4 linked regions of the Homo sapiens genome follow. The protein of the gene in region 2 purifies or fractionates together with the protein of the main gene of each other region. This does not show direct contact. Each region holds a gene or a part of one and is shown on either strand. Other genes may lie near its edges.

What was found.
Region 1: the proteins of MTA3 (region 2) and ZNF219 purify together in Homo sapiens (affinity purification with mass spectrometry; 4 studies listed by BioGRID and IntAct, with this or other methods). This does not show direct contact.
Region 3: the proteins of MTA3 (region 2) and BCL11B purify together in Homo sapiens (affinity purification with mass spectrometry; 2 studies listed by BioGRID and IntAct, with this or other methods). This does not show direct contact.
Region 4: the proteins of MTA3 (region 2) and CHD3 purify together in Homo sapiens (affinity purification with mass spectrometry; 4 studies listed by BioGRID and IntAct, with this or other methods). This does not show direct contact.

Annotation. Positions count from the first base shown.
Region 1 is NC_000014.9:21,089,577-21,095,687, forward strand, and holds the end of ZNF219 (zinc finger protein 219), read right to left. Parts: intron 4,099-6,111; 5' UTR 4,016-4,098; coding exon 4,010-4,015; intron 3,715-4,009; coding exon 2,289-3,714; intron 1,967-2,288; coding exon 1,835-1,966; intron 1,565-1,834; coding exon 960-1,564; 3' UTR 501-959; downstream 1-500. UniProt on the Homo sapiens protein: Transcriptional regulator. Recognizes and binds 2 copies of the core DNA sequence motif 5'-GGGGG-3'. Binds to the HMGN1 promoter and may repress HMGN1 expression. Regulates SNCA expression in primary cortical neurons.
Region 2 is NC_000002.12:42,753,632-42,757,478, reverse strand, and holds the end of MTA3 (metastasis-associated protein MTA3), read right to left. Parts: 3' UTR 533-3,847; downstream 1-532. UniProt on the Homo sapiens protein: Acts as a component of the histone deacetylase NuRD complex which participates in the remodeling of chromatin.
Region 3 is NC_000014.9:99,269,197-99,277,127, forward strand, and holds the start of BCL11B (B-cell lymphoma/leukemia 11B), read right to left. Parts: upstream 3,002-7,931; 5' UTR 2,023-3,001; coding exon 1,965-2,022; intron 1-1,964. UniProt on the Homo sapiens protein: Key regulator of both differentiation and survival of T-lymphocytes during thymocyte development in mammals.
Region 4 is NC_000017.11:7,905,759-7,912,790, reverse strand, and holds the end of CHD3 (chromodomain-helicase-DNA-binding protein 3), read right to left. Parts: intron 6,936-7,032; coding exon 6,802-6,935; intron 6,669-6,801; exon of another isoform or gene 6,531-6,668; intron 6,239-6,530; coding exon 6,094-6,238; intron 5,923-6,093; coding exon 5,760-5,922; intron 5,666-5,759; coding exon 5,544-5,665; intron 5,439-5,543; coding exon 5,303-5,438; intron 5,191-5,302; coding exon 5,089-5,190; intron 4,901-5,088; coding exon of another isoform or gene 4,898-4,900; coding exon 4,772-4,897; intron 4,390-4,771; coding exon 4,281-4,389; intron 4,095-4,280; coding exon 3,962-4,094; intron 3,649-3,961; coding exon 3,453-3,648; coding exon of another isoform or gene 3,407-3,452; intron 2,364-3,406; coding exon 2,200-2,363; intron 1,945-2,199; coding exon 1,818-1,944; intron 1,328-1,817; coding exon 1,206-1,327; coding exon of another isoform or gene 1,087-1,205; 3' UTR 36-1,086; downstream 1-35.

The sequences.
Region 1 (6,111 bases), on a different chromosome or scaffold from region 2:
GGATTAAGGTGATAAATAACTTGAGCACTTTCCCTCAACCAGCCCTTAACTAGAACACAGAAAATAAAACCAAGACTGGAAGGTCCCCTCTACCCCTCCCAGGCCCAGAGCTAGCTGACTGTGTATGAGCCTGGGAGAATGTGTCTCCTCCACAGTGGCTCCCAGAGGTTCCACACACTCTCTGAAGCTCCTTCTCCCACACTGCACCTACTCCTTGAGGCTGAACTGGTCACAGACAAACTGGGATCCAGCACAGTCCAGCAGTTCTCAAAATGAGGTCCTCAGGCCACAGTGCGTGAGAACTTGCTTGGCTGTTTGTTAAATGCTAATTCTTGGGCCCCATCAGAGCTACTGCATCGAAACCTGGGGGTAAAACCCAATATTCTGCATTTCTTATCAAACTCTTTGGGTGATAACTAAGTGTCTGAAGAGGTGACTATTTCCTGACAGAAGGACCCAAAGAGGGAAGCAGGACATAGGTAGGCAGACAGACACAGGGCCCTGTGCCTCAAGACACCTGTTTATTGGGGACACGACTCTGCAATAGGGATGACAGGAATCGTACCAAAAATAGCGACGTCTACAGGGCCCCTGATGGGGCTAGAAGGGTACAGTGCCCCCCACCCTCACCCCTTGTACAAAAATAAACTCTCACGCCTATGGACCAGCAAAGACTGGCAGAGTGGCTCCTCAACAGGGACACAAACCTTCTCTGCCAGCCCAGGGACCCCGTTCTTTGACCCTCACCTCTGCCACTTCTAAGGCACTGTGACTCCCTTGGGCTGGGTGGGTACCGCCAGCCCACCCTCCTACGCCCGCCGCGCCTTCCACCTCTGGTCCGCCTGGGGCTGGGATATGGGTCCCACGCTGCCCCCTGCTGGCTTCTCTACCCAACTACCTCTAGCGCTCCCCCGCTCCGGCGGGGTAAGCTCACTAAGCTAATCGCCCCTGAGGGCCCACTACCGTTCTTGCCCCCCCAGCCCTGCCTCTCCGGGTCTGGACAGCCCGGAGCCCTCCTCCCCTTCCTGCGAAGGACTGGGAGGGGTCTCTCCTGATGGTACTCGGGCATAGGGCGGGGACGCGTCAGCCTGGGGTGGCCGGCGGCCCCTAGCCCGGCGGCTGTGGTGCACTTGAAGGTGCAAGGCCATGAGCTCTGGGGCTCCAGTGGCGAACGGGCAGAAGAGGCAGCGGTGGAGGGCACCCCCAGGCCCGGCCTCGCCTCCCGGCCCTGCCCGCAAGGACAGGTCCAGGGGTTCGGCCTCACCGCCTCGCCCGTTGCGCAGGGTCCTCCCAGGGCTGGCGGGCTTCCGACGGGACCCCGGCCCAGCACCGCTAGAAGGAGGCCGGGGACTTGAGGCGCCCTCCACCCAGGTCGCAGGCTGCGGAGACGGCTTGGCTCCAGATTGCGGGGCCGAACCCCGCTGGGAAGGAGGCGGTGGCTCCGGGGGTGGCCCGGGGCCGGCCCCGCTCCTCTGCTCCCGGTGGTGGCGCTGTAGGTGATACTTGAGCGAGCCGGACTGGGTGCCCGCGTAGTCGCAGTGCGGACACTTGTAGGGCCGCTCGCCTGGGGAGAGTGGGTGCGATAGGGTCACGGGGTCACGATGACTGCACGCACCCACCCGAATTTCGCCCAATTTACAGACCTCATTCTCAGAACCAAGAAAGGGCACTGCGTCTCCCACCCACTTTGATTTAATAAAGGAGCGTTTCCCAAGTGATCTCATCCAGCCAAACTGAAGGCTTCGGAACAAACTTCACCTCCTAGTGTTTCGGTAGCCCTCACCTTTCTGCCCGCCCCCAGTCCCCTCTCCACGCCGGAGGCTGCCTCCCTCACCTGTGTGCACTCGCAGATGCACTTTGAGGTGATGTGCTGAGCGGAAAGATTTTCCGCAGAAAGGACAATCCTTGCCGGTGGCGCCCCGGCCCCCTTCAGGCCGGGTCCCTCCAACCAACAGCCCATTCTCTTCTGCAACACATACGTTAAGAGGAAGTCAGGGGGGCCCACACCCTGTCCAGGTGCCGCGCACCCACCCCACACCCATCCCATAGGGCTGCTTCCCCTCGGGGTCCAGGAGGAAACAAAGTCTGAGGGGTTAGATTTGTTGTGACTAAAGAGTTAAGTGTTCTCAAATGATGGCAAAGCCTCCAGGAAAACAAAACAAAACAAAACAAAAAAACTCAGGAGAAATTAAACGTAAGTTCTTTTAACAAGGAAGCTACGAGGGAGTGGCGGCGTAAGAGTCAGAGGAGGACGCGGCGTACCCGGAGAGCGGAGGGTACCTACATACCCTGCGTGGCGGTCGATCTTGCCTGGGCCCCAGCAGCAGAGGCAGAGTGCCCCGGTCCCTCACCCGGGCGCGGGTGCAGGGAAGCCAGAGAGCCCAGCGACCTGCCCCGGGCCCAGGTTTCCTCCTCGGCCTCCACCACCTCCTCTTCTTCCTCAGGCTCCTCCGCACGGTGCCGGCGAGCCCGGGCCGGGAGAGCAGAGGACAGCGGGCGGAAGCCTCCGAAGCTGCGGCCGGGACCGGGCTCAGCACCCTCGCCGTTGGGCCGGCCCTCGCCAGCTCGCAGGCTCAGGTAGCCCAAGAGGCTCGGGGGCTCACGGCGCTCGGCCGGGGTGGGAGCCGGGGCCAAGAGGAGCGCTGGGCCCAACGGCTCATAGGCCAGCAGGCCGAGGTCAGGAGGCTGGGGGGCGCGGGCAGGCCCGGAGGCAGGCCCCGGGGCACGCAGTGGGCCCAGCTTGCTGGCGTGCACCTTCATGTGGTTCTTAAGGAACCAGGGCTCCTTGAAGCAGCGGCCGCACACCGGACACGCATGATCGAAGGAGGCCTTGTGCTTACGCATGTGGCCCTTGAGAAACCAAGACTGTGTAAAGCTCTGGCCGCACACTTGGCAGCGGAACTCCGGAGGCGCTGGGGGCTCCTCGGGAGCGGCAGGAGCTGGGGTCGGGGTTGCCTCACGTTCGGGCTCCGGCTCCGGCTCCGGCTGGGGGACTGATCTGGGTTCGGGCTGGGGTGGAGGCTGAGGCTGAGGCTGAGGCGGAGGCGCAGCGGAGGTGGCCGCCAGGGGACGCTCGGGAGCCCCGTGGGCCGTCAGGCTGTGGTGCAGCAGCTCCTCCTCCTGGCTGGAGCCGAAACTGCACAGGCCGCACTTCCAGGGCCTATGCAGGATGTGCAGGTGGCGTTCGCGCTCCGCCGAGGTGCGAAACTTGCCTTTGCAGTAGGGGCAACGGAAGGCGGACGATGAAGGAGCCTGGGGCCGCGCCAGACCCTCAGTGGCAGGGGTGGCCTGCATGCCCCCTGAGCTTCGGGCTCTCCCCAGTCGGGCCTCGCGTAGTAGCGCGCGCTCTTCCAACTCCAGCAACAGGCGTGCAGCAGGACTACGTGGGCGCTCGGGCTGGTGTGTGCGCAGGTGCGAGCGCAGCAGAGCCCGCTGCGCCGCGCGGTGGCCGCAGTGAGGGCACTGGAAGGCCTGGGCTCCTGGGTGCGCCCGCAGGTGCAAAGCAAGGATAGAGTTGAAGCGGAAGCGCTTCCCGCATACAGGGCAGGGGAAGCGCCGTTCGCCTGCACGACTCTCAGACCAGCTCACCGCTCCCATCCCGAGCGACCCTGCGCTCACGGCTGGCCCGTTGGAGTATCGCTGCAGATCCAGCTCGCCGTCGAAAGCCGGCGGCGACGGCGCTAAGTGGCCGCTCGGGGCGCGGGGACGTGAGCCCTGTGGAGAAAGATCTGCGTAGAGCAAAGGGTGAAGGTAGAGCTGTAAAGGAAGCAAGGGCGTCGCCTCGAGGGCCAGAAGGACAACACGAGGGAAGGTGGGCTGGGGCCTGAACTAGGAACACAGGGTGCTACTCACCTCGGGAAGATGGGGTGGGGGGAGGTGTATGGGAATCGAGATGTCAGGGCCAAGGAGTTAACTTCTAATAATGGGAGGTCAAAGAGAGAGAGAGGTAGGCAGGAGAGGGAGTATACAGTTGTAGGTACTTGTAGGTTGAAGCCAGAGCTTCACTCACCTCCATGGACCCCCTTCACATTCTTTGGTTCTGGGAAGTGCAGGGAAGAGGAGGAAAAGCTGCTAATGAAGGCAACAGGTGCTGTGGAGCTAAAGCAAGAGACAGATTTGGAGGAAAAGATGAGCCCTAGTTTTCAGCAGTAAAGTCACTCCCTACCCCCAGACTCTCAGCATTCTGTATTCCCAAAACCAATCCATTCTCCCTACTTGCTTCTTGAGGCACGAAGGGGCTGCTATACTCAAAAACTGTACCTCTTGACTTGCCAAGCCTACAAGCCTCCCAGATAATCCAGATTTCTTCCCCAAATTCTATATTTTAAATGCATGGTCCAGAACAACCACAGCTACCACCCCACCCCCTGGCGGTGGGGAAGACCATCACAATATGCCCCTCTCCCATGTAGGTTGGGCTATGCAGTGTGGTGAGCAAATGAGGTGGGCTTGCCATGCTCCCCATTTATCCAAGTGGGACCAGTTGCTCTGAGATCCCTAACTGAGCAGCCAGCCAAACATCCTTCCAGGTTCCACAGTGCTTCCTTCTGCCCTTACCCTGTCTTTCTGTCTTTCCCCCCTCATTCTCCCTCCCTCCGCCTGGATTCCTGATCCATTCATTTCCATTCATTACAGAGACTCATTCATGCATGGGAGAGAAACACCTCCCAGCAGCAGAGTCTGAAGACAGACAGAGGGGGAGGGGCATGAAGGGGGAGGGAGCCAGAGGGAGAGGGAATGAAGAGAGAGTTGGGGGAGGAGTGGAAGTTAAGGGGCACAGCTAGCCTGGGGAAGGGGCTAAAAACTGCAAATACCGTATAGGATTCATCCCCTTGTTTCAAACCTTGGAGCCTGCAGTATGATGGGGCATCTGAGCCCCTTTGTCCAGGGCTGTTCCGAGGCAGGCTTTCCTCCTCTCTGCAGGGGAGAGGCTCCCTCACACAAGAGGAGGATTACACTGGCTCTGAGCTCAAGAGGCTGGAGTGAGGGACGGGGGGCGGGGCTGGGCCATCTGCACAGATAGGGACTCAGCACATGCTCTGAGCAGGAAAGGGTTAAAATTCTCCAGGCTAAAATTCCCTAGGCCTGGGACTTGCAGAGCTCCAGTGCTGGGGAAGGAGAAGATCATTGAGAGGAAGAGGATAGGGGTTGGGGGGGGGGGCGGGTGCTGATCCTAAGCTGCAGAGGAGTTTAGCATGAGGACTTAGAAGAAACCCCAGAATCAAGATTCATGGAAACAGACCTGGGAGGATGACCAGAAGTCATCTAGTCTACCTTTCTGCCTCATATAGAATAGTATCTGGTCAAGGCTAAATGAATGTGGGTCTAACCTTTTTTTTTTTTTTTTTTTGTCTAAGAAAGGATATTTGAGATATAAAGAACTTCCTTACAATAGGCATCACAAAACTGAAATGGGTTACTGAGAAAGAAAAAGATGCAAGCATTACTTTGCCTAAGGATCTTTAATAGAAAAGAACTGTGCCAGGAGTCAACCTGCCTGTCAGCAGAGAGAAAAGGCTCTGGAGGTCCAAGGCTTCTTTAATTTTTGACATTTAGTGGATGTGGTAAAACTCCATGAAGGGGCAGGTACCTGTTACATGTGGAATCTGGGCTATAGGATTATTATTAGCAGATGATTAATTAACAAAGTGTCCTTGTCCAAGGGTCACTAGACGACCTCCACTACCACTTAATATGTGTATTTCTGTAGCTTCAAATTAGGGCACCCACTCTCATCCTCTGGATCCTTTCCTGGGACTAAGAGCCTAGCCAGGCTTACTGAATAGTGTCACAAAAGGTGAATTAGAATAGGACTGAAGGGTACAAGGCTATTGTAGGCCTAGTCTGAACATTGATAACCCTACAACCTTTACTAAATCACTTAACCTCCCAGTTTACTCATCAGTAAAATAAGGGGATTGGACTAATTTATAGTGTTAGTCCCTTCCTGCTCGAAAAAAGTTTGTGATTCTAAGTCACAGGACTCTTTTGGACCCCAGAGAGATGTTAAAACAAATGGTCATCCCTTCAGTACCATGGAGAGTGCAGTGGGCTACCACAGAAGCCACTTGGGCCACCTCAGTACCATAGATAGAGCTATGAGGTGCTAGA
Region 2 (3,847 bases):
GGAGCCAAGCTTCACTTTCCCCTATAATGACCTTGGCACAGCAGCTGAGACAGAGTCCACACAAACAGCCAGCCAAACAGCAAACCCCATGTTGGGGCACAGCAGCCTTCCTCAGTGCACCACCTGAATACCCCAGCACCCATCCCCACAACCCAGCACTGGCCACAGCAGGGCACAAGTCACACTGCAGGGTAGTTCACGGGAAAAAGGCTGCCTATTACACCTCATACCTCCAGGCCTGGGGGCACAGGGTCAAAGGCCTCCTACTGGGGTGACCTCGCCTCGTGAAACTTCCATGTCCCCAGGATGTGGCTTATGAGACAGCAGAAGAAGATGCAGACCCTGGGGAAAGGCCTCTGAGAGTCTCAGTGCAGCTGGGGCACAGCAGACCAACTGGCCTGGCCTATTACCTCCCCGGGGCCCTCGGAGCTCAAGGTTCTGAAACAAGGACCACCTGAGGCTGGGCCTAGGGGTGCGTGCACAGTCTTACACCTGAGCCATCATCCTAGTAAAGAACAGCATAAAACCAGGCAAAATTTCCAGGAATTTATTGGAAACACAATACAAATTGGTTAGTAGATGGCATCTCCTTACAGACAGACAATCCACACTGTGGTATCATGCTCAGAACGAATTATCCTGCGGAAACACTCATGAGCACAGGTGCGTGCTCTGGGTTAGCTTCCCTGGCAGGGAAAATCAGAGACATAGTGCAGAGGAACAGGAGGGGTGGACAGAAAACTGGGACATGGCCTTCCTGGGGGGAATGGTGAGGAGGGGCTGCTAACTGAGTAAATTCCCCCAAAGGAAAACAGGGACAACAGTAAAGAATAAAGGCTTCCCCCTCCCTCCCCAAAGCCGTTTCCTCTCTAGGCAGAGTAAAACAGAATCTCCAAACACCCACGGGGCAGCTCCTCCACCTCCCCTCGCCAGGGACTTAGGACAGCAGTGGGGCATAAACACCAGGCTCAGACATGACACCGAGTGCACTGAGGCCACGCACAGCCCCACCTGCTTGCCCTCAGCCCCCTGCTCTGCTCTGAGTGGCAGGGGACTGACCCGGTGGGTCGCCTGTCCCAGGCTCCCAGGGCAGCTGCTTCCAACTGGGTTTCACTACTGTGAGGCACCTGCAGGACTCTGGAGGCCAAGAGGAGGGGAGAGGCTGGGGCCCCCTCTCTCTGCCTGGGGAAATGTTTCTGACAAGAATCATGGCTTCTCGAGGCTCCAGCCCCCACCAGACAGGTCCACAGTGTGGCAGGTCCCCCAGTGGCCTTGGCCCCAGGCTCTGGTGACGCGTCCTCCCCTGGTGCCCAGCCAGTCTCAGGATGGGGGCGGCTTGCTGTTGTTGTTCCCCACCTCTGGGTTGCCCCTCACTCCCCTGTTTTGCCTCTCAGCTTTTCTTGTTTTGTGTTAAACAAATCTCTGGATGAAAACCCCCACTTGAAATCCATTTTCCTGGGTGGGCCCTGAGAGATGGAAACTGGGCTGTGCACAAGGGGAATTGTGAAGGGCAGGCTGAAACCTTCCGGCGACACCCTCCAGTCGGCCCTCCTCTCTTGCGCACCTTTAAGAAGTGAAGGGTGGGCAGGCGATGACTGAGCCAGAGGGGGAGATAGCCTGCAGAGCCTGTGTCCTCACCCCAGGGGCATGTCTGCTGGGGGCTGCGCAGACAGTCTCTGCACGTCCACCCATGTGCTCACTGAACCACAGTGACATGCCACTGACACACAGCAGGGACACCATGGCCCCAGAAAGGGAGCGGGTGGCTGGGAAACCCTCTCAGCACCAAATGCTTCCAACGGCAAAGGCACAGACTAGAGGCGCCTCGGCACCCTTCCTCCATTGCCTGGGGGATTCTGTCAGAACGAGGGGGCAGTTTCCAGAGACAAAGGGAGAGCGTGAAGTCTCAGTCAACATCACCCTCCTAGGATGACTGGACTACAGAACCACGAGCTTTACTTACAAGAGGAAGGAAAAGCCTGCTTGGCACACGTGGCTCGAACAAGCTGCGCTTTTCCCAAAGCCAAATGTCAACTGGGTAGATAGGAGGGGCCTCCCTTCTCCTGCTTCAGACCTGGCCTGACTCCTGTCTCCAAATCTCTTGGGCCTGGGTGAGAGGGCCTCTCCCAAAAGGCAGAGAAAATGAAGCTGGCAGCTGAGTCACGGGCAGCTAATTGTTTCCAGAATCTGCAGTCACCACTTAGTAGGGGTTCAGAGAGAAAGTGAAAGGGTGAGGGAATCATTTCCCCTTCTGGGTCCAAGTACGACAATAAATCCAGAGCAGGGTACAGACAGACAGCTTTCCTGTGTCTTTTTCTTTAGGGAAGAAACATCCACGTGATGCGGCACCTCCTCCCAGGTCTTTGCTGAAGGGACCCCTCAGTGGGAACCCTGAGGAGAACCCCTGCCTGCCACCTCCACCCCTCTCACCAAATGCTTCTGACACAGGCCCCACCCTCAGCGCCCCAAGCCAAGACCCAGCACAGCTCCAAGAGTGGGTGGTGGTGGAGACATCCCATGCTCGCCCTTGCAGAAGCCTAAGATGAGAACCAACTCCTCCTCAGAAAAGAAGCTGAGATGTCTGCAAAACCGCCCTCCACCTCACACAGCACGCTCTCTCTGCCAAGCGGAGCTCAGCCTCCGAGGACACAGACATCTACAGCATCATTATCCTTACCAAGTTACCTCGTGCTTCCCAGGGTGTCAATTCAATTGTAGCCACTCTGTCTTGCAACAGCTTGGCTATTTGGGCCTCTCGTATCTGCCATCCAGCTGCCTCCTAGTAACCCCAGAGATGGCTGGGAGATCAGACTCCAGTTGTCTTTCTTGGGACTGTGACCCTGTGCCTGCAAACAGAGGGCAGGGGAGTTGCCAGCCTCACATCTGCTCAGGGAGCTCATCGGGCGCTGAGCTATTCCTATCCTTGCAGCTGCCAGCACAAGTAGCACAGCTACTCAGCACAGCTGAGTGGCCAACTGTGATGCCACCAAGGGCTCGTGCCGAGGGCAGGTGGGAAACACGAAGAGCCCAAGCCAAAGGAGCAGGCAGGTCCCCCGGGGCCTAGGTCACATGTGCTCACAAGATGTTGGGCTGGAGGGGTGGGGGTCATGGGGTTGGCCACACAGACTCATACCCACAAACACAGTTCTCTCACTCCACACCTCTAGGCCAAACAGAGTCTGTCTGCTTAAAATGAAACTAGGTCATTTGTGACCTGCTGTAGGACCCACCTGGCAGCAGTTCTTCATCAGCTGGTTTGGCTGCAAGGGAACAGGGCAGTAAGCAAACGGCTTGTCACAGTGATACACACGCTTGGCACTTTTAACAACTGCTCTTGCTGGAGCTGTCTGTGACCAAGCAGAGCCGGGCAGAACACCAGTTTCTCTCCAACCACAAAACACAGATGATGAGTTTACAGGCTTATCTTTTGTCAGAACCTCGGTAATTCTGTTCCTTGGAGGAGTAGGAGGGAGGGTCACATATAGGAATGCAGAGGGTAAACAGCAAATTCCCCCATTTCAAAAAAACAAGGATGAAGCCTATCGAGAAAAAGCTGAGTGACGGTAACAGCAAGGACAGGGAAATACCTTGAACCTCATAAACACTGGCGCATTTCTTAAGAAAAATCCATTCAGAAAGATGCCATGGCCCTCCTGTACATATTTAGTAACTATACAGCATAAGACCGAGCTGAGCGGACACATGCAGGGTGGCAGCGGCTCTGAGCTTGCAGCAGCCCCACTGCCAAGTGGCCGCTGTTGCTGGGTGGGGCGCAGGGCGCTGCAGAAGGGAGGAGGTGGAGGGGTTCCCTCAGCCCCTCAATTCTCAGCAGGTCTCGCTCCGTAAC
Region 3 (7,931 bases), on a different chromosome or scaffold from region 2:
ATACAGAGGCTACGTGGGGCAAATTGCCTCCTGGAGAAATTAAGCCTCTGCAAGTATAGACGTTTTAACAACCACCCCATCTAAAGGGGGAAGGGTGTAGAATAAGCGATTGCTGTGGCTTGGTAAAGGATCGAAATGTCAACTGGCAAAAAAGACCTTGATCAAACCAAGCTCAAATCTAGCTGCAAAACATTTTGTTTTAAACGCAGCCGGCGAGTCTTCTTTGGTGTTACAACGGCGAAAAATAAAAGAGAAGTCCTCTTCCCTTCCTCCAAAGAGGCATCCCTCTCCCAAGGCGAATCCCACTTTAATTTCTATTCCCCCCCCCCCAAAAAAAATCATAATAAATCCACAAATTCTTACTAATGTATCTGCTGTAACAAAGGAGAGATGGCAACAGCAATTGCTCCGAGCAGATGGCTCCTATGCTGGGTTTTCAGGGGAGGGGAGAACCACTTTATATATTTATTTATTTATTTAAATTTTTTAAAATATAACATAAATATTCGGCTCTCGGCCGCCCGGCAGCCAGTCCTCTGCGGTGACTGGGCGCGCAGCCCTCTCGAGCTCCGCGCGGGCAGCCCGGCCCCAGCCCGGCGAGGTGCGCGGCGGATTGCAAGCATATAACCTGCCCGCGGTCTCGATGGCACCCAGAGGATGTTTTATTTCTATTGCAGTTAAAAAAAAAAAAAAAAAAAAAAAAAAAAAAAAAAAGGAACGGCGACCCAGGCACCGCGAGAGAAAGAACGGCGGGGAAATGTTCGCGCGCAGCGAAGAAGCCGCCCCGCGGGCTGCGGCGGGCGGGGAGCGCCGCAAAGCCACCTTCCCGGTGCAAGTGTGCGGGGACTCGGGGCGGGTTCCCCTGCAAACACCGTACCTGGCCCGCTCGCGCTCGCTTTTCCCCTCTGCTAAATAAACCCAACAGGGACGGTGGAAGCTGCTGCTTGTCTTGCCCCGCTGCCTGACTTTGCCCGCCCAGCCACATGCTTGAAATCGACACGATTTCAGCCGGTGGATTTCCACTGCGACCTGCCTTGTTTATTTAGATAGGAAAGATGAAAGATACTGAGATAGAAAGATGGATACGAGATTGATGGGTCTCCTTTTTTTCTTTTTTTTCTTTTACTATTTTACAAGCGCATCACTCTCTTCCCACTCCTAACTGACAACCTTTTTTTTTTTCCTCGTGGCGGGGATTTTTCACCAACCCCAATCCCCCCACCTTTTTTGAAGTGGGGGAAAGAAGACAAGATCATCCCAGGAGACAGACGGAGGTGGGGAAGTGGGGGGTGGGGAGGGGGGCTTGAGCCCGGCAAACAGCCGCGCAGCTGGATTATTTTGCAAATAGCAGGAGGAGGGGAGAGAAAGGCGGCTGCGGAATCCTAGGACTGGCGCGGCCGGCACCCTGCTGGGCCGGGCGCAGGGACCGGGGACCCGGAGCCGGCGGCCGCCCCTGGCCCTACGGCTCCCCCAGCCGGAACGCACCCCGCTCTCCTCCGCCCGCGCCGTCAGCGCGGACCCACGCGCTCGCCAACTTTTCCCCACTTCCCGGCTCCCCCTCCCCCTCCGCTCCCCCAGCCCCCTCCCCCTCCTCTCCAAACCCCGCCACCAGCGCCGCCGCCGCCACACACGCCGCTCGGAGGGGCGAGCGTCCAGCCGGGCTCGGCGCGCACACACACACACTCCTCCAGCCTGCATGCCCCCTCCCCGGCCCGGAGCCGGCTCCGCAGGCCCCCGAGCCCGAGGCGCGTCCGGCTGCTCGGCGCCCCAACTCCCCGGGCTGCAAAGAAACTTTCCTATGGCCCCCGCCCCCCGCCATGCTCCAGGCCGACGCCGTAGACTCTGCCAGCCAGCGGGCGGCCCCGGCGCCTGGCCAGGCTCGGCTGTTCCGGGCTCGGTGTCCCCAGCCCCAGACGCCCGGAGCCCCATCTCCGGCCCCTCGCGCGCACTCCGCAGACACTTACGGGTGATGAGCTCCCTCTGGGACAAGTGCTGCGGGTTGCCCTGTTTGCGGCGGGACATTGCCCCGGCATCTATTCTGGCATCGCCCGGAGAGCTGCACTGATGGGGGGAGCCGGGGGAGGGGGTCCGAGCCGCCGCCGCGCCGCTGCCGCCGCTGCCGCCGCCGCCGCCGCCGCCGCACCTCCTCCTCTGCCCGGGTTGGTGTTTTTTTTCCCTTCCTCTCTTTCCCTCTCTTCCTCCTCTTCTTCTTCTTTATTTTGCTCTTTCTTCTATGCTGTTTTTTGTTTTGTTTGCAAAAAGAAAAAAAAGGGAAGAAAAGCAAGAAAAACCTCTCGATCTAAAATAAGAAAAAGAGGCAAAAAAAAAAAAAACTGCTGTTGCTTTCCGCGGACTGGCTGGTTTCTTTAAAAATATATTCTTTCGAAGGAAAAAAAATCTCTTACACTTCTTCAAACTGCTTGGCCTCTTGCACTTGCAAATGTCTTCTTGAACTTAAACTGGGTTTTGCACCGGCTCCTGACACTTTCTTTCAGGGTCTGGTAGGTGGAAAGCGCACTTCTACCAGGAGGGGAAAAAAAATGCAAACAAATAAAAAAATAAAAGAAGAAAAAGCAAAGGAAAAAAAAAAGCAAAGAAAACTTGGGGACTTGTCTCGTACCCCCTCACCCCGCCCCCTCAAAAAACCCAAAGCAATGTAAAACTGCCCCGGTTCGGTTGTTTCTGGGTTTTCTGCGGGCTGCCTGTTTTTGTTTTTGTTTTTGTTTTTTCTCGGAGACTGACCCTTCCGAGGCTCTGGGGGGACACCAGGAGAGGCTCCTTCCCAGTTCACCTGGCAGGCTGGCGCCGGCCGGAGGGGCTGCCGAGTCCCCGCGAGCGCTCCCCAGCGCTCCCCTGGCGCCGCGGGCCCGGGGGGAGCGGGGCGGAGGGGCGGCTCGCCCAGTGCGCCTGGGTCGGTGCGGGCGCAGACTGGGAGCTATAGATTGCAACGTGAAGATGGCGGAGTCCGGGTTCTCTGGGAGCTCTCGGTCTCTCTATGGCTGGGGCTGCCTCTGTACAATGGGATAAAATTCAAGTTCAAGTGCGGACGTGACGTTTAATCTGCACTAGAGACAAAAAGACCCAGAGAGTCGGAGCACTGGGGGCGACTAGCGGTGGCTTTTTAACATTGTACCCTGTAAGAGAACAAGAAAGCACACACAGAGACACACTCGCGCGCGCGCGCACACTCACACACACACACACACAGTCGCCAGTTGCGCACACCCGCAGCCCAAGCCGGACACACGTGCAAACCGCGTTTTTGTGCGCTCATCTCCCCCGAGCCCCGGCTGCGCAACAGCGGGAGGGGGTTGGGGGGGGCCACTGGGCAGCTTATTTTAAAATAAAAGAAAAATCGTCCTTATATCTCCTCCATCCTGGGAGCAGGACCCCCTGAGAAGGGGGGCGGGGTGCTGTGTGAGTGAACTAAATTGAATCAATGCAAGTCTCCACCCACCCAAAAGCTCTTTCGGACTTGGACTTTGGGGGTGGGGGCGTGGACTGTGGAAAAGGGTTGGGGTCGACATGGGAGTTGGGGGGACAGTAAGAATCGCTTCGTTTCCCTGGAAAAGTCGCTTGGTAGTTTTTACTTTTGTTTTATGGTCGCGGGCGGCGAGGGGAGGGGAGTAGATGTTGGAGTTCAACTTCCAAAAAGTGTCTCCATATAAATCCTGGTATTACAGACTCTGGGAGGGTGAGGATGACAAAATAAACGACACTAAGACAACAGAATCAAGAGCACGTGAGGGGGTGAGAAGTGTTTGAGACCTTGTTTGAGTCCCACTTGGAAAAGGATTTTCACTCAAATCTTTGTCCCCTCCCCTCACCTTACCCCGATTAACTCCTGGGGTCAAACACGACCCCACCTCCTAAACTGGGTCTATGGCAAGCGAGAGGGTAAAGGGACCGGGGCGCTCCACGTGGGAGAGGGACTTGGACTTGCCAGCCCAGGAGTAGGTGTGGCCAAATCTCCGCAGATACTCGGGTGGGTGACTCCAGGAGGCGCCCCTGACAATCACAGCAACCTGGAAGTCACACCCCGCCCCCCGCGCTCCTCGGCCCAGGGTAGGACTTGGAAATGCCTGTCAGACTGGGAAGGACGCAGCTGCCTTGTCAGCCGTTTGATCTCCAACCGGCGAGGACAAGAGGAGTTGTGGGGCCTCTCCGTGGCCCGGGGACAAGGCCAGACCACGGCCCCCGTGGACACCCCCCATTCCCCAGGCTGTGGCCAACTTTGTCAATTTGATGACCTGGCCTCCAGGGCTGGGCGCGCCACGCGGCTGGCCTCCTCTCCCTTCTCAGGGTTTCTCTGGAGGCGGCCAGGGCGGGTCGGGGCCTGGCTCCGGCTAGGCTTCGCGGGCGAGTCCAGCTGCACCCACCCCACTCCGCCCCCAGGCCTGGCTCCGGCGGCTTCACCCGGGCGCATGGCGAGGCCGTGACGCCTCAGCGCCGCCTCCCTCGGGGCCTTTTCCTCGGGGGGCACACGGGGGTTTTTGTTTTCGTCCCGAAGGTCTTGGGTGGGGCGATGGCACCAACAATTTAACAGCGCCCAGAGTCCGTGAGCGAGAACAGAAAGAGATCCCTTCCAGTCCCATACCCTAAAAAATAATAACAATAAAATGTGCCCTGGCTTGCAGTTCTGTAAACTGTGGGCTCCACGGTGGGCGGACGCGAGGCCGAGCGGATGGAGACCGGGGGCGGGGCGCGGACTTGCACCTCCTCGCCCTGGCCGGGCAGGCTGCACCCGGCTGCCCACCCCCAACACCCCACCTCCACGTGGTCCAAAGTCTAGTAGGGCCTCCCTCTTCTGCCATCCCTCTCACCGGGAAAATCTTTCCAGGAAAGTGGCTTAAAAAAAATATGCCCACACGCACCTTTAATAAACTTCTTTAAGACATTCATAAACTGGCCATCCCTACTCGCCCGGACTCTAAATTTGAAAGATCAACTCGCGCTCTCTTTCTGAGAACTAGCGATGTGAAGCCCAGAGAGGGTGAGCACTTTGCCCTAGGACACACAGCGCGTCAGGGACAGGTCTGGACCCAAAACACCGCGGCGTGCCTGCAGCCCAGCGCCGCCGGCGGTCCGGGACTCGAAATCCCGACCCACGACCCTCACCTTCCTGGGGTTGATTACAAGGAAGGCAGACCCCGCCAGTGGCAAGGCGGGACGGGGAGGACCCCTCAGGAAAAGGGAGCCCCTCCGCGAGCGGCGCAAGGGCTCTCGGAGTCCCAGCTGCAGCCGCCACCCCGCGTGCGGTAAGGGGCCGTGCCTGGGGAGGGGGCACCCCCTCCCCACTCCCAGCAGGAAGTAGCTGGCGTGGGCCGGCGCGTGCCCCACGGACCCGAGGAGCACTTCCTCATTGGCCCCGCGCTGCCCCGACGGCGGGAAGAGGGACGCGCGGGCGGGCGGACGCAGGGCCGGACACGCCGCCGCCCGCCGGCGCGCTCCACCTCGCGGCAGCCGGGGAGAGGCTGCTCTGCCCCTGCCCAGCCTTGAGCCGGCCCCTTCGCCCTCCTCCTCCCCCTTTTCCTCCGCATCTTCCTCCCCCTCCTCCTCCTTCTCCCCCTCCTTCCCCTCCTCCTCCTCCTCCTCTTCTCCCGAGAGGCGGCCGGGCGCAGGCAGGGAGCGATCCCAGCTGCCACTCCAGTCTCCTCTTTTTCCCTCTGCCCGTCTGGCACGGGCCTCATCAGCGCGCAAAGCTGTTAATGTCTGGTCTCACAGCTCCCCCTTTAGTCTTGCTGCGCTCCATGTCTCACGTTCCAAGCCGGATCAATAGCCGCCTCTCGGCCGACCTTGACCTCTCCCTCGACCCTGCCAGGCTTCCGCAGCTGGCCCCGTACTAATGTTTCCCCACTCTCTAGATGCCCAGACAGCAGGCGGGGCGGGAGGGGGGTGGTCGACCTCGGCCCACAGCCATGTACCCACCCCTGCCTCAGCACCCCAGGCAGGCGAGAGGGGGCTTCAGGACTCTCCTGAGAAGGTCACTGCACCGCCCCACCGCACCCCACCCCACCTCTTCTTCACCAAACCTTTGTTTAAAATACAAGTCACTCCTGCCCCCTCCCCACCCCCAAAAAAGAGGGTGCAGGTGGCTCACATATGAAAATGTAAAAGGAAAAAGTGTGGGTCCAAATGTGGTCCTGAACTAATATCTTAAAACCAGGTTCATTTCTCTAGCACCTGCTGCAGACCTACTGTGTGCTGGGCCCAAAGCTGGGGCTTTGTGCATGCTGGAATCACATGGAAATAAATGCCACCTTTTCTGCACTATCTTTACACACACACACACACACACACACACACACACACAGAGCAGATGTCAAAAAGCTTTTTGAACTCACAAATATTTCCCTGCTATTCTTTTTCTAGCTTCACAGTGCATTCCAGCAGATAATCCTCCATATTCTCAGTCACTTTAAATTTCTTTATAGAGGAATAGTTCAGAAATCAGAAATCATTTCATCAAATCAGAGTGCATTTTTATTAACCTTATGTGGGGCTTTAATTCCCTGTGTGTGCTGCGTGTAACACACCATGCAGTGGGGGCAGATTAAACAGACACGTGACCCCCAAGCCAGGCTTTTTGTTTAAAATTCTTTGAACGATTCTCAATACTTAACTCAGCTGAGGTTGGACTCTATTCGAGATCCTACAATGTTATCTTTGCCTTCTGAGCTGTTATATTTTATCTCTTATGTCTTTACAAAAATTTGGAAAGAATCAAGATAAGACGTGTCAGTAGAAATGGGAAGTCCTAATGTTTCTGCAGAAAGAAAACTGACATTTCATTTGTTTTTGTTGTTTTCTTTTTAACACAGATCCACCCTCTGAAACGCAGTCAACTTTGTAGCAATTCAACAGCACATCTTACCAAATTACTTTGGGCTTCATTTTTGGTGCTTTAAAACAAAGAAGAAGAAGAAGAAGAAGAAGAAAACCATGCAAAGAGAGGGCAAATCGTTTCATATTCACAGGTATAGGGCAGACTCAGAAGCAACCCCTGTCTGTTCATTTCTATTCCTCCGGATCTATAAGTGTTATTGACTGAGAAGATGAACATGAATACGATGTTCCGATCTGATCAGTGGATGGACTTATTCTAACTTGTGAGGAAACCACAGTGGAGGCACCAAGCAAATCATATTTATGTACATATTAATAAGGCTCCCAAGGTGGTCCTTATCTCTTTCCTTACAGTTCTAGAATCTTTAGCAGCTATCAAATCCAGAGGCATAAAAAGACAAAAGAGGCCTTTTGGGCTTCCTGCTGTATCTTCTAGAATTATTTTATGTCATTTCTGAAAATTACAGCAAATTTCTGGGAGCCATAAGCACTCAATTAAAGCTTTGCTGGATTTAGAGGAGTTTTTCACGTTGTCACCTGATAGCAGAGTCAGGACCACAAAACTTGCCTTTCAACAGTTGTTTGGTTGATTCTTTTGGTGTACTGAATTTAACAACATTGCTTTTGTTAAAACATGACATCATTGGCACCTTATTTTTTTCTGCAAGTAATACCTGGCCTTGATACAGTAGTACATTTCTGACCATTGCTTAACTGTATAAGGCATAGGTAAGCTGTAGGAAAACTGAGGCATCATTGCCGGCTGCCTTTGTATCTGCAGCCTGCAAGGGGTTAAATAAAATTCACTGTTCCTGATTCATGTATTATTTTCCTTAAAAAATACTTACCCAGCTCCCCGTATATGAAAAGGACTCACACCCACATTGAATGTTCCTAGCTCTGTCCCTGTCATCAGAAATGATATTGAATGGCTCAGTACTAGGGGATCTGGAACTATTTCTACAGCTTTCTCACCTCATTTGGAATTTTCTTGTCTTGCTAATTTTAATTCTTTAGTTGAGTCATCAATTCAAATTTGGTAGGGACTGGCATCACCCAGTTGGTCGACTTGGGAGAAATATCGT
Region 4 (7,032 bases), on a different chromosome or scaffold from region 2:
ACTCCCCCCCCCCATAAAAAATAACAGAGCACACAGAAAGGAAAGTATAATTTATATGTACAACCAATAAACCTGATACAGAAGAGGGGATCAGGACAGACCAGGAGTGGGTGTGAAGAGAGACTGGGAAAGGGGCAGCAAGAAAGTGAAGGGGCAGCAAAGAGGAAGTGGGGGGTTCGCCATGCAAACTGCCACTCTCCCCGGCCCCTCCTGGGAGGGGGGATGTGCCCACATTTCCCTAGCCTGCCCTCCACTATTTTGCTCTGGTCCCAACGACAAGGTAGCTCCCAAGACCCTGACTAGGTCCCCTGCCTGACTTATACAAATTTAGTCTGTATCCAGGCCTTGAGGAGGGAGGGTAGTAGAAGTCTTCCAGGAACCTGAGCCCCAGAGCTGGGCTTCCACCACATCTGGCCCATTGTATTCTCTCCCACCCTTCTAGGTTACCTGGGTCCCTAGAACAGGTTGGGGAGCTCCTCTTTGGCTTGAGGGAGTATCACCCAACCATTACTCTTTTTGTAGGGGTGGTCCTTGGTCCCTAGGGAGGGGGGAACATTCCCAACACAAGATGCCGGTACACAGGAGGTAACTGAGCCAGTGAACGGCACCTTTATTCTGAGGCTGAACAGCAGTTGACTTCCTCCCTCATAACTGCTCCACCCTCCACGTGGGGAGAGGTAGGGGACGGTAACATGCAGCCACCCCTCCTCGTCCCTTCCTCCCTCCCAGGGCTCATTTTCATCCCTCTCTAAAGTCCCCCTCCTCTCTTCAAAGCTCTCTTCCCCACAAAAGTTCCTAAAGGCCAGGCAAGGCTGATTCTCCACTTCCACATGAGACAGAGCTGATTCTGCAGGGAAACGGCTGGGGAGGCTCCACCTCTTTCCTCCCCACAACCATTTACTGGGAAGTTGTGTATACTTGGCAGTGTGGGAGGAAGGTACTTGGAAGACCCTGCCAGCCATCTCCCACCCAGACTTCTTCTCACCAGCACAGTCTTCAAGGCTTGGTGGGAAAGGTGTGTGGGAGTGGAGAAAGACAAAGGGCCCTTCTTGAAGAGAGGAGCTGCAGAGAGGGGCAAAGGGGTTCCTAGCCCAGTGATGGCCCAAGGGGTGGGGAAGGTGGAGGGCTGGCAGCAGGCCCCAGCGCTTGAGCTGGGGGTCGGCCTCGGGGACGGGGCCTGGGTGAAGGGCAGGCCTGGGATCCAGTCAGTCGTCTATACAGATCACCTCCCCGGCTCGGGGCTCCTTCCGATCCAGCCCGTCTGACACCAATGCCCCCACCATTTCCTTCTCCTTCTTCACAAGCACTGGAGGGCCGTTGGTGGCGGCTGTTTGGGAAAGGGGTAAGGAAAGATCAATCTCCAGATCACTCTCAAACGTCACTTCATGACAATGGTGAATTCTCACTTCTAGGTCACCTCCTGCCACTTCCCGTTGTCCCACGTGAGGGAGGGAAGACCCGGGCAAACCCCTTTCCCTGAGATTCCACTTTGTGCTACATGATTGAACACATGTTCCCACTCTCTAACCCCTCGGGTTTCATATTCACTTTCCCTTGAAGGAACCCGGAGGGAGGTGGCTCGGGTAGAAGACACCAAGCCACAGATCTACTAAAACTCTGGTTTTTAATAAAGGGGACTGAAGAGGGGTTAAGAAAGGGATGGGTGGGGGGACAGCCTAGAACAACTCTATCCCATAAAACACCGGATACCACCAAGGAAATGAGATGGACTAGAGCAGTTAAAGGGCAGCTGAGCAGAAATAAAGTTTGGCAAAGGAGGAGTGTGAGTAGCAGGGGGTAGGAAAACACCAGCTGACCTGTGATGAAGGACCCTGCAGGCATCTGGCTGTAATTGGCGCCTGCGGCGGCCAGGGCCCCTACGGGTGCGGCGCTGAAGGCCGCCCCGTACCCCGGAGGTGTAGCGTAGGGACCCGGCGGGTAGGCCTGGAACAGAGAGGAAGCAGAAGTTGGAGTTAGTTCATAGTCTGTGAGAGGAAAGAAGCTGTAGGAGAGACATTATGAGCCACACTCCACAACTGCTAAGGGTAGGATACACAGGCAGGGAGACTCACTCAAGGGTGATGACTGTGTTCTAGCAAGTTGTTTTTCCATATTGTATAGGATTCTGATGGAAGTGTTTGTATGTGTGCAGGAGGAACACAAACAGGGAAAACTGGAGCTAGGGGGAAAGAGGGTTACCGGTGTGGGGTGAGGCTCCGTGCCCTTGCTGGCCAGCCGGCTGAGGATGCTGCGCTCGGACATCTGAAGGCGGGCTGCGATGGGGGGTATTCGGGACAGCGTGGCTGGCAGGCGGGTCACGTCCGCCTTCATGTCGCTCAGCAACTCCTCCAGCTGGTTCAGAACTGGGGCCCGGGCCACAGAGAAAGAAGGGCAAGAGAAAGACAGGGAAATACAGAGATGGAGCCAGGAAAAGAGAGGCATCAGATGGACAGATACAGGCAGAAAAAGAGCGAGAGAGGAGAACACAGATGTCAAAGAACCAGAGATCAAGAAAGTAAAAGAAGTAGATGGAAAACAGAAGCAACTCAGGGGAAAAGAAAAAGTGTCAGGAAAAGAGACAGAGAGACCAGATTACCACAGAAGACAGATGGAGAGAAAGAAGAAAGAAAAAGGGAGCATGGAGGAAAGGAAGATGGGGGGACATTGGAAGACATGGGGGCGGGGAGTTGTCAGAACATCTCATACTGGAAGAGCAAGGTTTGGGGTTGGGGATGATGGGGAGGAAATAGTCAGGAGGCATGGGAGGTGGTAAGTGTCAAAGCTTTAAGGAATCACGGTTTTAATATGTAAGGGGAGAGGGAGGTTAGAAGGTCAGTATTACAGATTCAAGGAATTAGAACAGGGATCAAAGGGGCCAGGAGTCAGTGACTACACCAGGCAGGATTAGATGGTTAGAGGGCTTTGGGATATAATCTCTATCAATGGCAAGGTGAGAGGGGGTAGGAGGAAAGGTCGAAGGTCAAAGGGAAGTTTCATGGGGTAAGGCCAGAGGGTTGGATGGGTGGTAGTTTCTGCCTTATGGGGTGAAACACATGTGAGGGAATGTGATTTGTTTGATCACAGCCAGGGATCTGTATGGTGCATTCACAGTCCAAGGCCCCTAACTGGATGATGTTAAGCAGTATGGCAGGCATGCAGTTCCACTGCCAGTGAAGAGGCCCCACTGTGTGGAGGGGACACAGAGGCTGGGGCAGGTCCCTCTATTGGGCACGGATGTGAATGCTATCAGACATGGATGAGGGTTGGCTTGCACAAGTCCTAGAGGCTAAAATCCAAGGGGGTGCCAGGTCGGTAGGAGTGGGGTTAGAGGTCAGAGGGGGATGGTTCAGCAGGTAGAGGGGTCAGGGGGTGGGAAGATTTTGAGGGGTGCGGGGTGAAGACTTACGCAGCGTTGTGGGCCCTCCCCCGCGCGGGGCCGCCGCGGCCCTTACCCTTGTGCAGGACGGCGTTGGCCGGCTTGTTCCCCGCCAGCGACTCCTTGGAGAGGTGCTGGTGGCTCTCGGCCAGGCACTCGGCCTCGGCGAAGCGGGCGTGGAGGGCCATGGCGGGGTGCGCCGGCTCCTGCGACAGGTTCAGGTAGGCCGCCCGCCGCAGCTGCTCCTCAATCACCAGCGCCTGCTCCAGGAGCTGAGGGCACAGAGTTGGGAGGTGAAGGTAGGGCTCTGCCAGCAGTGGGTGAGGGGCTGGGGGGGCGGACATAGCAAGAGACCCACCCTGCCCTCACTGCTGGCCCAGGGCACTCCCAGCTCCAAACCGACTGCGAACCTAGCAGCAACCCTGACCCAGATCACACTCCCAAGCACAAGGTTACACTTTGGTCTTGGCCCCAGGTATCACCTCAGCCCTGAAGGTGTTAACCTTCCCTAGGTTCCAACTAGATCTGGTCTCACTTCTGACCCAAGCCCGTCTATAACCCGCTCCTTTCCTCCCTCATTCCCACCTTGAACCTCCGGGCCAGGAACTTATTTTTCATCTCCAGAAAGTTCCCCTTATTGGCTTCAGTTTTAAATGGCTCGTTGATAATGGCAAATTGAGCATCATTCTGGATGTCCTGCCACCGTGCATAGCCATGGCTACCAATGAAGGAAAAGGAACCATCAAGGAATTTAACAGGAATGGGCTTGGCTTTGAACACTTCTTCCTTTTGGCTTGACTCCCCAAAGTGTGGCACTAGCCCTGTCCCTGGGTGTGAAATCATCTTTTTTTTTTTTGCCAGCTTGAGAGAACCTTTTCCTTCTTGCATGTGTATCAAAGGATACAGGACAATCCCAGCCAGAAGCCAATAGTCATGTCTTCTGTGCCAGATCTCATTGAGTTTCCCCGAGGAAATAGCTGCCCGTTCCTCATTCTGCCACAGTGTGTGAAGCTCTGCAAAGAAGGCAGCAGACAGAAGAGGTAACAGGGTTTTGCAGACTGCACTCAGTCCAACAGACAGGTAGAGATGGAGAAACTGAATAATGAAAGGGAACTAAGGGCTCCTGAAGAGGAATGGGTAAAGGTTAGGTTTGGAACAAACTCAGTTCTAACCAGGTTCGTTAGAATTAAGAATAAAGGTGGGATTAGGGCCAGCTTTGGAGTTAAGAGGGATACTTAAGAAAGATTTAGAGCAAGGATCGGAGTCAGCATGCAACATACTTCATTGGAAGTTACTTGGAATTAAAGGTAGCAGGAAGCCTCAGGCAAAACGAGAAACCCCATGAGGATGAGCAGATCCCCTTGAGGAGCAGAAAGCAGCGAGAGTCTCCCCAACCTGTGAAGCCACCATCGGCGATATTGAACATGAACCGGGGCTTCTCTGTCTTTTCCTCTCGTCGCCCATTGGACCGTGGCTCATCTCGAGGCCCTGGTCGAAGCTCCCGGTCACCTTTTACATCTTCTGCTAGGACAGACAGGTCAAAGCTCACACCTCAGGACACCCTCCTCCCAGGTCCCAAGACTACTATCTGTACTGTACTGTACTGGCCTTTCAAACAGCTACCCGCCCAGGACCCAAGCATTCGGTTCCCCAGACTCCACCTCCCCTGATGCCCTCTGGGACCCAGGTGTCCGGTCCCTTCCACCCATTACCTCTCTTGCCCAAATCCCCTGTTTCCCCCTCCGGCCTCTCCCTGTGTTCCTGTCCATCCAACGGCTTCTCCTCCCCCCTTTCTCCTGGCGTCGACTCTGTGGCTGTGGGAGGGGGTAGGGGATAGGAAGGGAGGATGTTACCCTCATCCCCTGACCCCAGAAGAGGGAAATCCCAAATTCTAATCCCCCATCACTCCTAAGGCCATGCACCCACCTGACTTCTCTCTGTCCCCACGGTACCCAGGTTCAGGCTCCATCTCTCCAGGCACCCCTGGCACCTCATCCTCTAGAGGAATCTTCCTTGGCTCCAGCCGCTCCCCAAGTGATGGGGCTGGGCTGGGGGCATCAGCCTGGAAGAGGACAATGGGGTCAGGATGAGCCAGAGGGCTCCCAGGTACCTGGCCTCCAAGCCCCCTCCCCTCCCGCTCCACAGGGGAATCCAGGGAGCCACACACCTCTGTCTCCATCTTCTCCCCAATTCTGCTGTTCTTCTCTGGCTTTTCCTCCTGGTTTTCAGCTTCCTCCTTCTCAAGAGGTGTCCTTATGCCTTCTCCTTTCTCACTTGGAGCTGGAGTAGCTGCAGGGGAAGGCACAGTGATAAAGACAGAGATTCTCCCGCCCTGACTCCTGGCTCCCTTTCTGTCTCTCCCACCATCCTGACTTCTGATTACCAGGTTTAGAGGTGCAGGGACTGTTGGTAGCAGAAGCCTCAGGAGTGGTGGGAGACGTTTTGGTAGGAGAGGAGGCTCTGGAGGAGCGCTTAGAATCGGCGCTGGGGTCAGGCATCAGTTCCGGCATTGACCAACGCCCATTGATGTGCTCAAACTCCTGCACCTGGGGTGGCAGGGTGGGAGGGTTAGGTGTCAGCTCCAGGCGCTTACAGACAGGAAGCTCCAGTCTCCTCCGTCTCACACCAGCGCAAGCTTACAACTCAGGGACAGAGGCAGAGGAAGGACAGAGACTAGGCAGCCAGCTTGATTCTTTGGGTGACAGGAAGACTGATACCTTCTTTTTGACGAGAGACATGACTCCAATGCGGGTCAACACCTGCTGGCGACTCAGTCCCTCCCGAGGGACCCCATCGGCAAAGGTTTCAGAGCCGTCTGCCCCAGGCTCACACAGATGGCGCATGAACAAAGACACATAGGCCCTAAGGAGCATGGGAGTGGGAGGAGGGTTAGGGGAGCCACAGAAGGGGTATAGGGCAGTGAGGGAGGCGCGAGGATGACTGAGGACCCCCAAACCCCCAAATCCCCAGGTGCTCCAGGGCTCCTCCCCTGGGCCTCTCACTCTCACCATTACCAGCCCTCCAAGTCCTAACTGTCCCCCTGCGCCCCACCCCTGGGTCTTTCCCTTTGGCCTTGGTACTTAATTCCTGGGCCCCATCAGTCAGCTCTTCATCCTTTCCACCAGCTCCTCCTGCCAGGTTATTGTGGTCAAGTAAATGTGAGGCTAGGACAGCCCAGGAGAGGCTCCTTGCTTCAACGCCCCTCCCCTGGGGAGGATGCCTGGCCCCTCTACTCTAGGCTCGGCTGAGGGGAGGTGGAGTGGGCTGAGACCACCCCCCAGGAAATCGAGCCAGGAAGTATTGTATGACAGGGAGGGTGATAATCAGTTGAGTAAGGTCACATCATATGGCGGCCCCAAGGAAGAAAGGAACACCCAAAGCTCTTCCCCTTGCGTCCAACTCAGCCCTGTATCACCCACACTCACTTAAACTCCTTCTCAGTCTTGCCCCTCAGGTCCCGCACCAGCCACTGTGTGGTGAAGGCATCCTGTGGTGGCATCCCCCAGCGCATCACAGCATTGAGGAAAGCCTTCCGCTGACGGGTGTTGAAGCCCAGCACCTGAGGGTGGGAGCAAGGAGGCAATGGCGACAAATGTCTAGGGTTCTTAGGTCTTGTCCTTTCTACCTTCAGTGATCCAGGCACCAACTTCCAACCT